Regions from separate parts of the Homo sapiens genome. Here regions 2, 3 and 4 are each reported to be linked to region 1. The links are microRNA targets in miRTarBase. Many come from high-throughput screens and were not tested one by one. Region 1 holds a microRNA gene; each other region holds the end of a gene's coding sequence.
Evidence for each region. Region 1 holds the annotated microRNA hsa-miR-3149 (UUUGUAUGGAUAUGUGUGUGUAU, at 1,576-1,598, opposite strand). A microRNA usually pairs through its seed, bases 2 to 8, with sites in the 3' UTR of a target mRNA and lowers its output. Matches are read on the target gene's strand: a 7mer-m8 pairs with bases 2 to 8, a 7mer-A1 pairs with bases 2 to 7 and ends in A, and an 8mer does both.

Region 1 (3,185 bases):
TAGACTTATATAACTATAAAAATATACATATTCTGTATTTAGGAAAACAGGATGATATTGTACATTCTGTTTATAACCAACTTTTACTTTTTACTAAATAATAGATAAGAAAAACTACATGTTTTTACAGCATGGTTTATTTAGTGTATCTCCTTTGAGAGATTTTTGGTTGTTGGCAATTTTCACCATAGTAAATAGAGATGCACATCCTGGTAAATAAATCCCTCTATTAGTAGTATTAAATTATAGAACTATAATTTCTTGTGAAAAAGGAGGCATTTTCTAAAGCTGCTGATGCATATAACCAATCTGCTCTCCAAAAAAATTTACACTGATACAGTAGTTTAAGAAGATGCTAGCTTCTCTATACTCTCAACAATACTTGGTATTTTTATTAAAAAATCACCACCAGAAAGTAGCTTTGCCAATATGTAAGTTAAAATTAGCATCTCCAGTGTTTTCCCTTTCCCTTGATATTCATTCTTCTAGTCATTCAACAAGTAATTATTGAGTATGACCATGGATGAGGCACAATGTTGAGTCCTGAGAAAACAATAATAACTCTTCCCTTTCTGAATCACTATTCTCCCTTTCTTGAGTCAAAGAAAGTCTGGACAAGGGCTTTTCCTCTCAAGTATCCAAGTATCTCAAGAATATACTATATCTCTCCTATTTCTCAATTATATCTACTCAGGACATTCTAGTTGGTTTCTATTCTCATATCGCCCCTACTTTAAGTGGTAGTTCCATATGCATGACCTTTTTTTGAAATTTTTTTGACACAATTCTGATTTTTGTTGAAAGCAGTGTATTGCAGAGGGTATGGACAAGCCAGTTAAACAATGAGCCTCTGGTAGCAATTGTGAGATAAAATTGAAGGGCGATTGGGTGTTGTAGAAAGAGGGTAGATTTTGCATCAGAAAGACCTTAGTTCTCACCCTTGCTGTGTATGTAACCTTGGGAAAATTACTTAGTTGCCTCTTTTGTAAAGAGTGGCTTATAACACATCTCAGAATAAAAAGTTCTAAAAGGGTACCAGCCACCTGGTAGAATGATGAATTTTTGGTTCATTTCGGCCAAAATTTGTTTGCTACTTGGTCTGTCCTCTTTCAACAGCCTTTTCTCTAGTTTTGTTTCCCTTTTTCTTCCAAGGCATCCTTAGCCTTTCCTAGTGGCCCTGGAAAAATCTCAATTTGGGATTACCAGCCTGGGCTTTCTTTCCTAAAGGATGTCTTATGTTATGACTCCATCTTCACCTTGTTCTTGCATAAAATTCTTTTCTCACGGGACCCTGTTTTCCATAGTGATTAACTAGTTTTCAGGGAAACTGTGAGTTTCTTAAGGGCAGAAAACATGTCCTGTATTTACTGTCTTTGCATCCTTGATGCTTACCTAGCAGTGTCTGGCAGACTGTGAGTCCTTGATGATTATCTGTTGAATGAATGACTACTCATCTAAACTTGGATGTTAGGGGCTCAGGTGTTAAATCTCAAGAACTTATATACTCTTAAGATATTCTTAAATGTTATTGTTTTCAGACATGAGGAAATCTGTCGGTTCTGTGTATACACACACATACACACACATATCCATACAAACATATATATATGTATGTGTGTGGATGACATGTGTGTGTACATGTATGTATATCCCATTTTGATGTCCTTTTTAAATTTCTTTACCTGAAGATATCCTACATACCTCAAGACTAAACCGAAATATCTTTGTCCCTGGAAGGCCTCTACAGGTCTCTGATGAAATAAATCACTCATTTCTCAATGCTCTCCAAGCACTTTGTCTATTTACTCCCATTGCCTTTTCCTTTGGTAGACTCTAATCTTTGGATTCTTAATGCCCAACATACTGAAAAAAAAATATTGAAAAAAGTGTTCACTAATCATTTGGCTGAATGAGGAGGGAGGCTAGGCTTAATCATTCATGTGGTCTTAAGTTTTAGCTTGTATAAAGGAGAAGCCAGTTTACAATGAACTTAGAGGGCCAGATGCAGTGGCTCACACTTATAGTCCCAGCACTTTGGGAGGCCGAGGCGGATTGCTTAAGGCCAGGAGTTCAAGACCAGCCTCTGTAACATGGCAAGACCCCCGCCTCTAAAAAAAATAATAAAAATAAAATGAACATGAATTTAGAGGATAGTAAGTAAAAAGAGGTAATGTGTAAAAAATAATTAGTGGTTAGGGAGATGAGGAAATAGAATAGATTTTGATTGGTGGTTCTATAGTTTACGGATGTATGTGTCCGAGCCACCTTTCTCCCACTCCAGCTGCCTCTAATCTCTGACTGGTGCTGGCAGGAAATCCACAACAGAAGGCAGCACATTGCATGGAATTTACGTTATAGATAATGCTCTGCCCTTATAGACATACTACTTTCAATTGATGATTAAATGCCAGGAACCATGGCAGAGCTAAGGGCAGATATTTATACCTCTAAAACACAAGCGGAGACCTCTGCATAGGAGTGGCCCTGCAGAGACCAAGTCCATGGGCATTACTTACTTAACTCATTAAAGGAAATACGTGGGTAACCAGAGCTGCAATGGAAGGCAGAGGAGTAAATAAGGACCAGCTTCAGAACCAAACTGGTTATCTTGAAAATCTATCACTTCACCCTTGCAATAGCTCATAACTCTGTATTGTAAGTAAATTCAATTATCATGCTTTTGATTCAACCTTTCAATCCAAGGACGATGTTCTTAAAAAAATTGGACTTTAATTTCATAAGCCTTCTAGGAGATGTTTAATCTTCTGAGAGAAGTCTTTTGTACTTCTGAGAAATTTTCATTTATCATATATGTCCTTAGACCATCACTGAGTCTGCAGGCTTTCCCCCACTCTTATCTCCATATTTTATACTGAATACCTATCTTCCACTTCTCAACCTTGAAACATTAGACAAAACCACACTCAAGTTATCAGTGGAAGAAATCTACCTGAGGAAAATTCTCGGGAGCTCCATTAATTGACAGATGGACACTTCCTGAATTTCCCCCAGCCCTCTGCCTGACTTCCTTACTCTGGGGTAAAAAAACAGTGAATTTAAGCACGATTGAAGAAAAAGGATTTAGGTTTGGGAAAACTTTTGTTTCTCTTAATATTTCTGCTTTGATTCCAGGGAAAAGAATGAATGTCATTGTTTCAAATACGAAGAAATCTGTTGGTTTTGAA
Region 2 (3,185 bases), not on the chromosome of region 1:
ATCAAAATTGTGCTTTTTTCATCATACAGTTCAAATGACTTAATTCAGCTTGATTTTGATACTTCAAGCACTCATCTAAACCCCATTTAACTTAACTATCACCAAATTACAGGTCTAAATAAGAGATGGAATTTAGGATAATAAACTTACTGACCCAGTAGGACACTTTTTAAATACTAATGAACCCTTTCTTTTCAGGATCCAGAAGTTATGGTGGCTTTCCAGGATGTGGCTCAGAACCCAGCAAATATGTCAAAATACCAGAGCAACCCAAAGGTTATGAATCTCATCAGTAAATTGTCAGCCAAATTTGGAGGTCAAGCGTAATGTCCTTCTGATAAATAAAGCCCTTGCTGAAGGAAAAGCAACCTAGATCACCTTATGGATGTCGCAATAATACAAACCAGTGTACCTCTGACCTTCTCATCAAGAGAGCTGGGGTGCTTTGAAGATAATCCCTACCCCTCTCCCCCAAATGCAGCTGAAGCATTTTACAGTGGTTTGCCATTAGGGTATTCATTCAGATAATGTTTTCCTACTAGGAATTACAAACTTTAAACACTTTTTAAATCTTCAAAATATTTAAAACAAATTTAAAGGGCCTGTTAATTCTTATATTTTTCTTTACTAATCATTTTGGATTTTTTTCTTTGAATTATTGGCAGGGAATATACTTATGTATGGAAGATTACTGCTCTGAGTGAAATAAAAGTTATTAGTGCGAGGCAAACATAACTCATTTGAGGATAAAGTTTGTGTTGGATATGTGGTTCCTGATGCATTTTGACTTGTCTTTTTAAATGCTTTATCTTTTTCTTTAAAGATTTATTTCAATAAAACTAATTGGGACCACCCGTATTTCAGTAGGACCTGGGTAGGGATTGGAAGTACTTGGCAGGGCAGCAGCAATCTTGCTGTGTTTGATATAACATGCATCCTTGGGCAGGTTGCCCTTAAATCTTACACTGTGGTGAAGGGATGTTTTTTTTGTAATGCTGCAGTAGAGTTGGAGTACTTAGTTCTCTTGTTGTCCAGTATATCTAATAAGTGTTTTTCATATTATTTCCACGTAAGGGAAATAAGGTAGTACTTTTCTTTTTATATTTCTATGCTTAAAATTCTCTTTCCTAGTCAAAAATTGCCCAAATCTGTGTTTGCTTTCTGCTTGCTACATTTGTCTCCCTTACTTTTCTTGAGCTAAAGACAGGCTTTTTCCACCGGCATCATCACTGCTATCATCATTAACAGCGTAATTATACAAGCATATTTAATGCTGAGTTTAATTTAATATGTAATACATATGGTAATTGTAGGGTAATACCCACAACAACTGTAGTTTCTTACTTGGCCAAGAGAATGCTTATTTAAGTGTTAGACTTCCATTCTGGCAAAATCTTGCCTTATCAGAAGACATTGGAAAGAGGGATTCCCTTTGGTGTTTGGTCTTCTACTTAGAAAAACCTATTGCAGTTAGTTTATCTTGTAGTATTCATCTTTGTATTCTGAAGATAAGGTTTGAATTAAATTGATACACACAGAGGGGAACCGATTTTTTTTATCCAATGTGAATTATAAATGAGATAATCCACAGTTATTCATTGTGGAGTTGTTGAGACTATGAAAGACTCATTGTCTTTGTATTCAGCTCTTAAATAGTGTAACTATATCCCCACCTCTGCTTGCTTTCTTTCCCTCCCCTCCAATGATAAAGAAAATGATAAATTTTCTGTTGTGCATTCAATTCTTATTTTAAATAAGACTAAGTATAGGCATTGTACCTGACATTGCTACGTTTCTACCAGTGTTTCAATTTAAAGTGCTAGTGTTTAAAAACATTTTCAAGGGATAAGGCCTTCTGTACTTTGCTTATTTGAAGAATCAGTGGTAGGAGCAGTGAAGTAAATTCTATGGAGTACATTTCTAAAATACCACATTTCTGAAATCATAAATAAGTTTATTCAGGTTCTAACCCTTTGCTGTACACAAGCAGACAGAAATGCATCTGTTACATAAATGAGAAAAAGCTATTATGCTGATGGAGCATGCTTTTTAAATCCTTTAAAAACACTCACCATATAAACTTGCATTTGAGCTTGTGTGTTCTTTTGTTAATGTGTAGAGTTCTCCTTTCTCGAAATTGCCAGTGTGTACTTGGCTTAACTCAAGAACAGTTTCTTCTGGATTCCTTATTTGATTTATTTAACCTAATTATATTCTAATATTGCAAATATTACCATAAGTGGGTAAAAGTAAAATTCCTCTTCTGAAAATGTGTCCTGTGCTTTTAGATTTTTAAATTCCATAATATACATTCTTAATTTTCAACTCAATATTCTAAACCAGAAATGTTTTCTTGTACTGATGCTATCAGAAGGAAGTTTTTTCTGCTTAAAAATATAGTTATATTTCTAGCTGTCTTTAAAATACGGTTTCAAACTAGATATTGGGCAGGTGCGGTGGCTCACGCCTGTAATACCAACACTTTTGGGAGGCCGAGGCGGGCAGATCGTCTGAGGTGAGGAGTTCAAGACCAGCCTGGCCAACATGGCGAAATCCCGTCTCTACTAAAAATACAAAAACTAGCCAGGCATGGTGTTGGGCACCTGTAATTCCAGCTACTCGGGAGGCTGAGTCAGGAGAATCACTTGAACCTGGGAGGCAGAGGTTGCAGTGAGCTGAGATCACGAAACACAGTCTCAAAAAACAAAAACTAGTTTTTAATTTCCCCCCCCACCCCCGACTTTTTGTAGCATATGTTCTATTTTATGTCTCTGGTACTCAGGTTATTTACTAGGTATATTAGGCTGCAGACTATTAAGTGCTGCAAACAAGAACCCCTAAAAAACATGTACTTTATTTTGGGTAGCTGTTCAGAGGCAGGCATTCTGCCATACTTAGAAGGTAGCTTCCATTTCTAGTCCAAAGTTGCTTGCTCTGGTGCTCATTCTCCAATTGAGGAAATAGGAGAAGGGGGCTCTGGGAAACACGCTGAGATACTGAAGATAATATATGATGTTAACATTTTATTACTTCTAATATCCCATTGGTCAGTTTGTGTGTTCAGGCTATGTTTAGCTGCAGGGAAAGCCAGTTTGTCATCCATAACTGTGTGATCACATGCTCAAGAAAAAACTTAAGAGTAGAAACAGGAAAGACGACTTGGGGTGACACCTAGCAGTCTACCA
Region 3 (3,185 bases), not on the chromosome of region 1:
CAGGGCCCTGTTAGAGGGCTGAGTTGGTGGATGGACGTGGGCAGTCCTGGGAACCTTCCTAAAGCCAGTTTGCATTTGATGTTTCGGCTTATTCTTCGTAGGAAGTACAGTGACGTTTGCCATGTTTTTCAGACACACATGCTCGGACATCAAGAGTATTCTTCTTCACCGCTATTTCAGGTGCCAAGGACTTCAGGCAGGGAGCCCTCAGCTCCTTCCGGGAACCTCCCCCACCGGGGACTGCAGGGCCCTGGGCTGGGTTACCCCACCAGCTCCACGGAAGACCTCCAGCCTGGCCACTCCTCGGCCTCTCTCATCAAAGCAATCCGCGAGGAGCTCCTCCGGCTCTCCCAGAAACAGAGCACCGTGCAGAACTTCCACAGCTGATCGGCCTCGCCTCGCAGATTTGCCAAGTATCCGCTTCCTGTGGAAGCAAGACCAAAAGGAAATCAACTGAGTGGGTGTTTGGAAGAGGAAGGAGCAACTCTCGGGCAGCCTGCCCAAGGGAGGGAGCAAGTTGCAATTTAGAAGATGCCATACGTCGTGTGACAGCTCATGAGCCTTTCACTGGGCTGGCAATTGTCTGAACACTTGGGTTCAGTTGAAATATATGTATTTTGGCCAAAAGCCAGCAGCACTTCACAAAAACAAAACACAAACCTAAGCTAACAAAATGACTGCATTCGTCTCTTTTTTAAAGGTAGAGATTAAACTGTATAGACAGCATAGGGATGAAAGGAACCAAGCGTTTCTGTGGGATTGAGACTGGTACGTGTACGATGAACCTGCTGCTTTGTTTTCTGAGAAGAGGTTTGAAGACATTTTATTAACAGCTTAATTTTTCTCTTTTACTCCATAGGAACTTATTTTAATAGTAACATTAACAACAAGAATACTAAGACTGTTTGGGAATTTTAAAAAGCTACTAGTGAGAAACCAAATGATAGGTTGTAGAGCCTGATGACTCCAAACAAAGCCATCACCCGCATTCTTCCTCCTTCTTCTGGTGCTACAGCTCCAAGGGCCCTTCACCTTCATGTCTGAAATGGAACTTTGGCTTTTTCAGTGGAAGAATATGTTGAAGGTTTCATTTTGTTCTAGAAAAAAAAAATCCCTCCCAAAGTGGGGCAAAAAGCTTTATATTTATTTGATTATCCAAAATACAGATCAAAGTTTAGATCTACATTCTTCATTGTATTTGCTGTTTCTTAATTGGGCACACACAACTCCTGGTCATGTCCCAGTTCAGCACCGATCGCTAAGGCCGATCCTGTAGAATGCGGCTTTCAAGAGGTCCTAACTGATCCTTTCTTCCACTTTGCTGTTGATTTGTTCACAAATTATGTCTGAATGAGAAATCTTCTGTAAGCAGAAGTTATTTAATAATTCCCAGCACCACGAAATTGTTATACATACATCCCTACCAGTCACATTCCCTGTGTTCAGAGCCTGGAAATGAAATTGAGTTCAGTTCAGCCTCTCTGTAATGAATCAAGAAATGTAAAAGAGCTTTGAGACCCCAAGGGAAAGGAGAGAGTTGCTTCTCATTTCTGATTTTATTGTGCTGTTACTCTGTCGAGTGGCTATTAAAATTGTCTTATGCTCTTTGGGCTAAGAGGGGATCATCTCGCTTAAGATGTACTCCTGATGTAAACATTTCCCCCACTTTCCAAATAATGGTAAAGAAAACAGTGGCAAGGGCTGTTCTGTTTTCTGGTACCTGAGTGAAACTCAGAAGAAAAGCAGGCTTAGCTAAGAGATTTTCACTATTAACCTGTTTTTATTAGATCAGCGAAGACAGTCATGCATCGCTTAATGATGGGGATGCATTCTGAGAAATGTGTCATTAGGCTGTTTTGTTGCTGTGCCAACATCCTAGATTGTACTTACACAACCTACATGGTATAGCCTACTACACACCTGGGCTGTGTGGCATGGCCTATTCCTCTTAGGCTACAAACCTGTACAGCATGTTACTGTACTGAACACAATGGTAAGTATTTGTGTATCTAAACATAGCTAAACATAGAAAAGGTATGGTAAAAATACAATTTTATAATCTTATGGGACTACCATCAATATGTAGACCGTCATTGACCAAAACATCCTGATGTGTGCATGACTGTACTTTTCATTAAATAACAGATAAGGGGCTATAGAATTTGGGGCTCTGACTGATCAAAACCTGTGTATCTGTGTCAAGTTTTAAGACCCCTGAAACAGCTAAAACAGGTTTCCAAAGTGTAATCACTGGATTTCAAAACCATGTTTTAGCCCTTCATTAATGAAGCCTGTTGTACAGATTTAGAGTCTTACAATATGAGGGAAGTTGGTTCTGGGAAGGTAAGATGTAGCCAGTTTTCATCTGGGCACCTCTGAAAGAGAAGGAGTGCAGGAGAGTAAGTCTCTCAAGGACGTTCAACAAAGGACCAGCAGCATCTTATCAGGCGATCCTCAGAGGCTCCAAGGAGCATTGGAGAGAATGCCCCTTTCTGGGCTTGATGTCTTGGTTTTGGTTTAATACCAAATTTCTCTTGGTCTTGGTTTAATACCCGACTCCTCCCAAATTGAACGATTATCTTTGTATGTCACTCAAAAATACCAGGTTTCCTGAATATGTTATTAAGAATTTCAGATATCCAAGCAGAATTTTATTATGGACACCTTGTAATGAATTCAAATCGTGTGACAGCAAACGGGATAAATGGCCCCTTCTCACCCAGTTCCGCTCAGGGCCATACAGGCTTGCACATAGAGTGTGCTAAAAATGGTAACCTCCTTTGAGCATTGCAGAAAGAGGGTTCTGTTTCAAATTGGGCTGACCGTAAAAGCAATTTTGATGTCTTTCAAACTACCATAAAGGGATTTTAACTGTATTTTTATTCTTAGAAACAATACACCTTTAAACAGATGTCAAGACCAAAGATGATGTATAATAAACAGCCGGTGGTTATGGTGTGGTGTGAGCAGGCCCCCGGATCACCAGCCCTCTGCTGGTGGTCATAAAGCACACACAGTTTGTACTTGCTTCCTCTCGACGCCTGCCACAACAGTTTTGCCAGTCACCAAACTCAGAAAAAACTAGCTGTGTGAGCAGCACCGTACCCTAGCGGTCTTCAGACATTAAGTTCACGTCATCCACTGAAAGGAAGGGTCCTTGCGTTGACAGCGTGTGGCTTTGGAGT
Region 4 (3,185 bases), not on the chromosome of region 1:
CACAAACATCATTTGATTGAACACATGCGATTACATTCTGGAGAAAAGCCCTATCAATGTGACAAATGTGGAAAGCGCTTCTCACACTCTGGGTCTTATTCTCAACACATGAATCATCGCTACTCCTACTGTAAGAGAGAAGCGGAAGAACGTGACAGCACAGAGCAGGAAGAGGCAGGGCCTGAAATCCTCTCGAATGAGCACGTGGGTGCCAGGGCGTCTCCCTCACAGGGCGACTCGGACGAGAGAGAGAGTTTGACAAGGGAAGAGGATGAAGACAGTGAAAAAGAGGAAGAGGAGGAGGATAAAGAGATGGAAGAATTGCAGGAAGAAAAAGAATGTGAAAAACCACAAGGGGATGAGGAAGAGGAGGAGGAGGAGGAAGAAGTGGAAGAAGAAGAGGTAGAAGAGGCAGAGAATGAGGGAGAAGAAGCAAAAACTGAAGGTCTGATGAAGGATGACAGGGCTGAAAGTCAAGCAAGCAGCTTAGGACAAAAAGTAGGCGAGAGTAGTGAGCAAGTGTCTGAAGAAAAGACAAATGAAGCCTAATCGTTTTTCTAGAAGGAAAATAAATTCTAATTGATAATGAATTTCGTTCAATATTATCCTTGCTTTTCATGGAAACACAGTAACCTGTATGCTGTGATTCCTGTTCACTACTGTGTAAAGTAAAAACTAAAAAAATACAAAATACAAAACACACACACACACACACACACACACACACACACACACACAAAATAAATCCGGGTGTGCCTGAACCTCAGACCTAGTAATTTTTCATGCAGTTTTCAAAGTTAGGAACAAGTTTGTAACATGCAGCAGATTAGAAAACCTTAATGACTCAGAGAGCAACAATACAAGAGGTTAAAGGAAGCTGATTAATTAGATATGCATCTGGCATTGTTTTATCTTATCAGTATTATCACTCTTATGTTGGTTTATTCTTAAGCTGTACAATTGGGAGAAATTTTATAATTTTTTATTGGTAAACATATGCTAAATCCGCTTCAGTATTTTATTATGTTTTTTAAAATGTGAGAACTTCTGCACTACAAAATTCCCTTCACAGAGAAGTATAATGTAGTTCCAACCCGTGCTAACTACCTTTTATAAATTCAGTCTAGAAGGTAGTAATTTCTAATATTTAGATGTCTTAGTAGAGCGTATTATCATTTAAAGTGTATTGTTAGCCTTAAGAAAGCAGCTGATAGAAGAACTGAAGTTTCTTACTCACGTGGTTTAAAATGGAGTTCAAAAGATTGCCATTGAGTTCTGATTGCAGGGACTAACAATGTTAATCTGATAAGGACAGCAAAATCATCAGAATCAGTGTTTGTGATTGTGTTTGAATATGTGGTAACATATGAAGGATATGACATGAAGCTTTGTATCTCCTTTGGCCTTAAGCAAGACCTGTGTGCTGTAAGTGCCATTTCTCAGTATTTTCAAGGCTCTAACCCGCCTTCATCCAATGTGTGGCCTACAATAACTAGCATTTGTTGATTTGTCTCTTGTATCAAAATTCCCAAATAAAACTTAAAACCACTGACTCTGTCAGAGAAACTGAAACACTGGGACATTTCATCCTTCAATTCCTCGGTATTGATTTTATGTTGATTGATTTTCAGAATTTCTCTACAGAAACGAAAGGGAAATTTTCTAATCTGCTTTATCCATGTACTTGCATTTCAGACATGGACATGCTATTGTTATTTGGCTCATAACTGTTTCCAAATGTTAGTTATTATGGACCCAATTTATTAACAACATTAGCTGATTTTTACCTATCAGTATTATTTTATTTCTTTTAGTTTATAGATCTGTGCAACATTTTTGTACTGTATGTCTTCAAACCTGGCAGTATTAATACCCTTCTTACTGACATATGTACTTTTAGTTTTAGAAAACTTTTATATTTATGTGTCTTATTTTTATATTTCTTTATTTATTACACAGTGTAGTGTATAATACTGTAGTTTGTATTAATACAATAATATATTTTAGTATGAAAATTTGGAAAGTTGATAAGATTTAAAGTAGAGATGCAATTGGTTCTCCTGCATTGAGATTTGATTTAACAGTGTTATGTTAACATTTATACTTGCCTTGGACTGTAGAACAGAACTTAAATGGGAATGTATTAGTTTTACAACTACAATCAAGTCATTTTACCTTTACCCAGTTTTTAATATAAAACTTAAATTTTGAAATTCACTGTGTGACTAATAGCATGATGCTCTGCAGTTTTATTAAGAAATCAGCCTAACCATACAACTCTCATTTCCTTAGTAAGCCAAATTAGGATTAACTTCTATAAACAGTGTTGGGAACAATGTTTAACATTTTGTGCCAATTTGTTCCTGTATTCATGTATGTAAGTTACAGATCTGACTCTTCATTTTTAAGTTCCTTGTTACATCATGGTCATTTTCTAGTTTTTTACCAGACTCCCATCTCACAATAAAATGCATCAACAAGCCTGAACTGCTGTCATTCTTTTCATCATTATCAGTATTTTCTTTGGAAAACTGTGAAATGGGGTACATTGTCATCCTGCATTTGATTCATCTTGAGCTGAATTTGGGTAACACTAAATGTTTTAGACATTCTCCACTAAATTATGGATTTTCTTGTGGCTAAATGTTTCTGGAGAGGTCAGAGTTGACAAAACCTCTTCACAGGTTGCTCCTTCTTCCTGAAATCCTTAATCCTCCGCATTTCATGCTTCAGGTCATTTCAGGGAAGCCTGGGTTTAGATGCCTTTCTGACTCTCAGCTCCTGCACTTCTGTCATCATACCTCTGATACTATTATTTATATTCCTTCCCCACTAGGAACAGGAACCACATTTGTCATAGTCACTCTCACATTCCTCACTGCCTAACAGGGTGCCTGGCATAAGTTGGGACAACAGATATTTGTTGAATAAAAATATAATTTGCATGTTTATGGAGCTCAGCTATGTTCTCACTTTTTTTGCTTCTAATTCCAGAATATATGTTAAATGATCTAATAATTTGATTATTTTCTTATAAGTCTTATTAAACACTAGTCATAATAGACACAATAAATTATGCCTTCTTTTTCTATTGCCTTACTATTTTGATTTTTTGAAAGTGTATTTCTAGGTGTCTTCCTGGTGCTTAACCTCATGGTATATGGCACAGGTATTGCTGGCTTGTG

Region 2: miRTarBase lists ST13 as a target of hsa-miR-3149. Seed matches in the 3' UTR shown: 7mer-A1 at 397-403.
Region 3: miRTarBase lists KIAA1549 as a target of hsa-miR-3149. The part of its 3' UTR that is shown has no 7-base or 8-base seed match.
Region 4: the mRNA of ZEB1 is a reported target of hsa-miR-3149. Seed matches in the 3' UTR shown: 7mer-A1 at 684-690, 7mer-A1 at 691-697 and 7mer-m8 at 2,271-2,277.

The regions. Positions count from the first base shown.
Region 1 is chr8:76,965,203-76,968,387 of GRCh38, forward strand. MIR3149 (microRNA 3149) reads right to left here and starts at 1,648; the gene lies at 1,566-1,648.
Region 2 is chr22:40,823,680-40,826,864 of GRCh38, reverse strand. It overlaps ST13 (ST13 Hsp70 interacting protein), which reads left to right. Exons shown (of 12, transcript NM_003932.5): 12 at 199-2,330. The coding sequence ends at 327. Among named protein-coding and RNA genes, the nearest start is that of SLC25A17, 5.9 kb to the right of the region's middle.
Region 3 is chr7:138,835,108-138,838,292 of GRCh38, reverse strand. It overlaps KIAA1549, which reads left to right. Exons shown (of 20, transcript NM_001164665.2): 20 at 133-3,185. The coding sequence ends at 387. Among named protein-coding and RNA genes, the nearest start is that of ATP6V0A4, 39 kb to the right of the region's middle.
Region 4 is chr10:31,526,716-31,529,900 of GRCh38, forward strand. It overlaps ZEB1 (zinc finger E-box binding homeobox 1), which reads left to right. Exons shown (of 9, transcript NM_001174096.2): 9 at 1-3,089. The coding sequence ends at 549. Among named protein-coding and RNA genes, the nearest start is that of MACORIS, 180 kb to the right of the region's middle.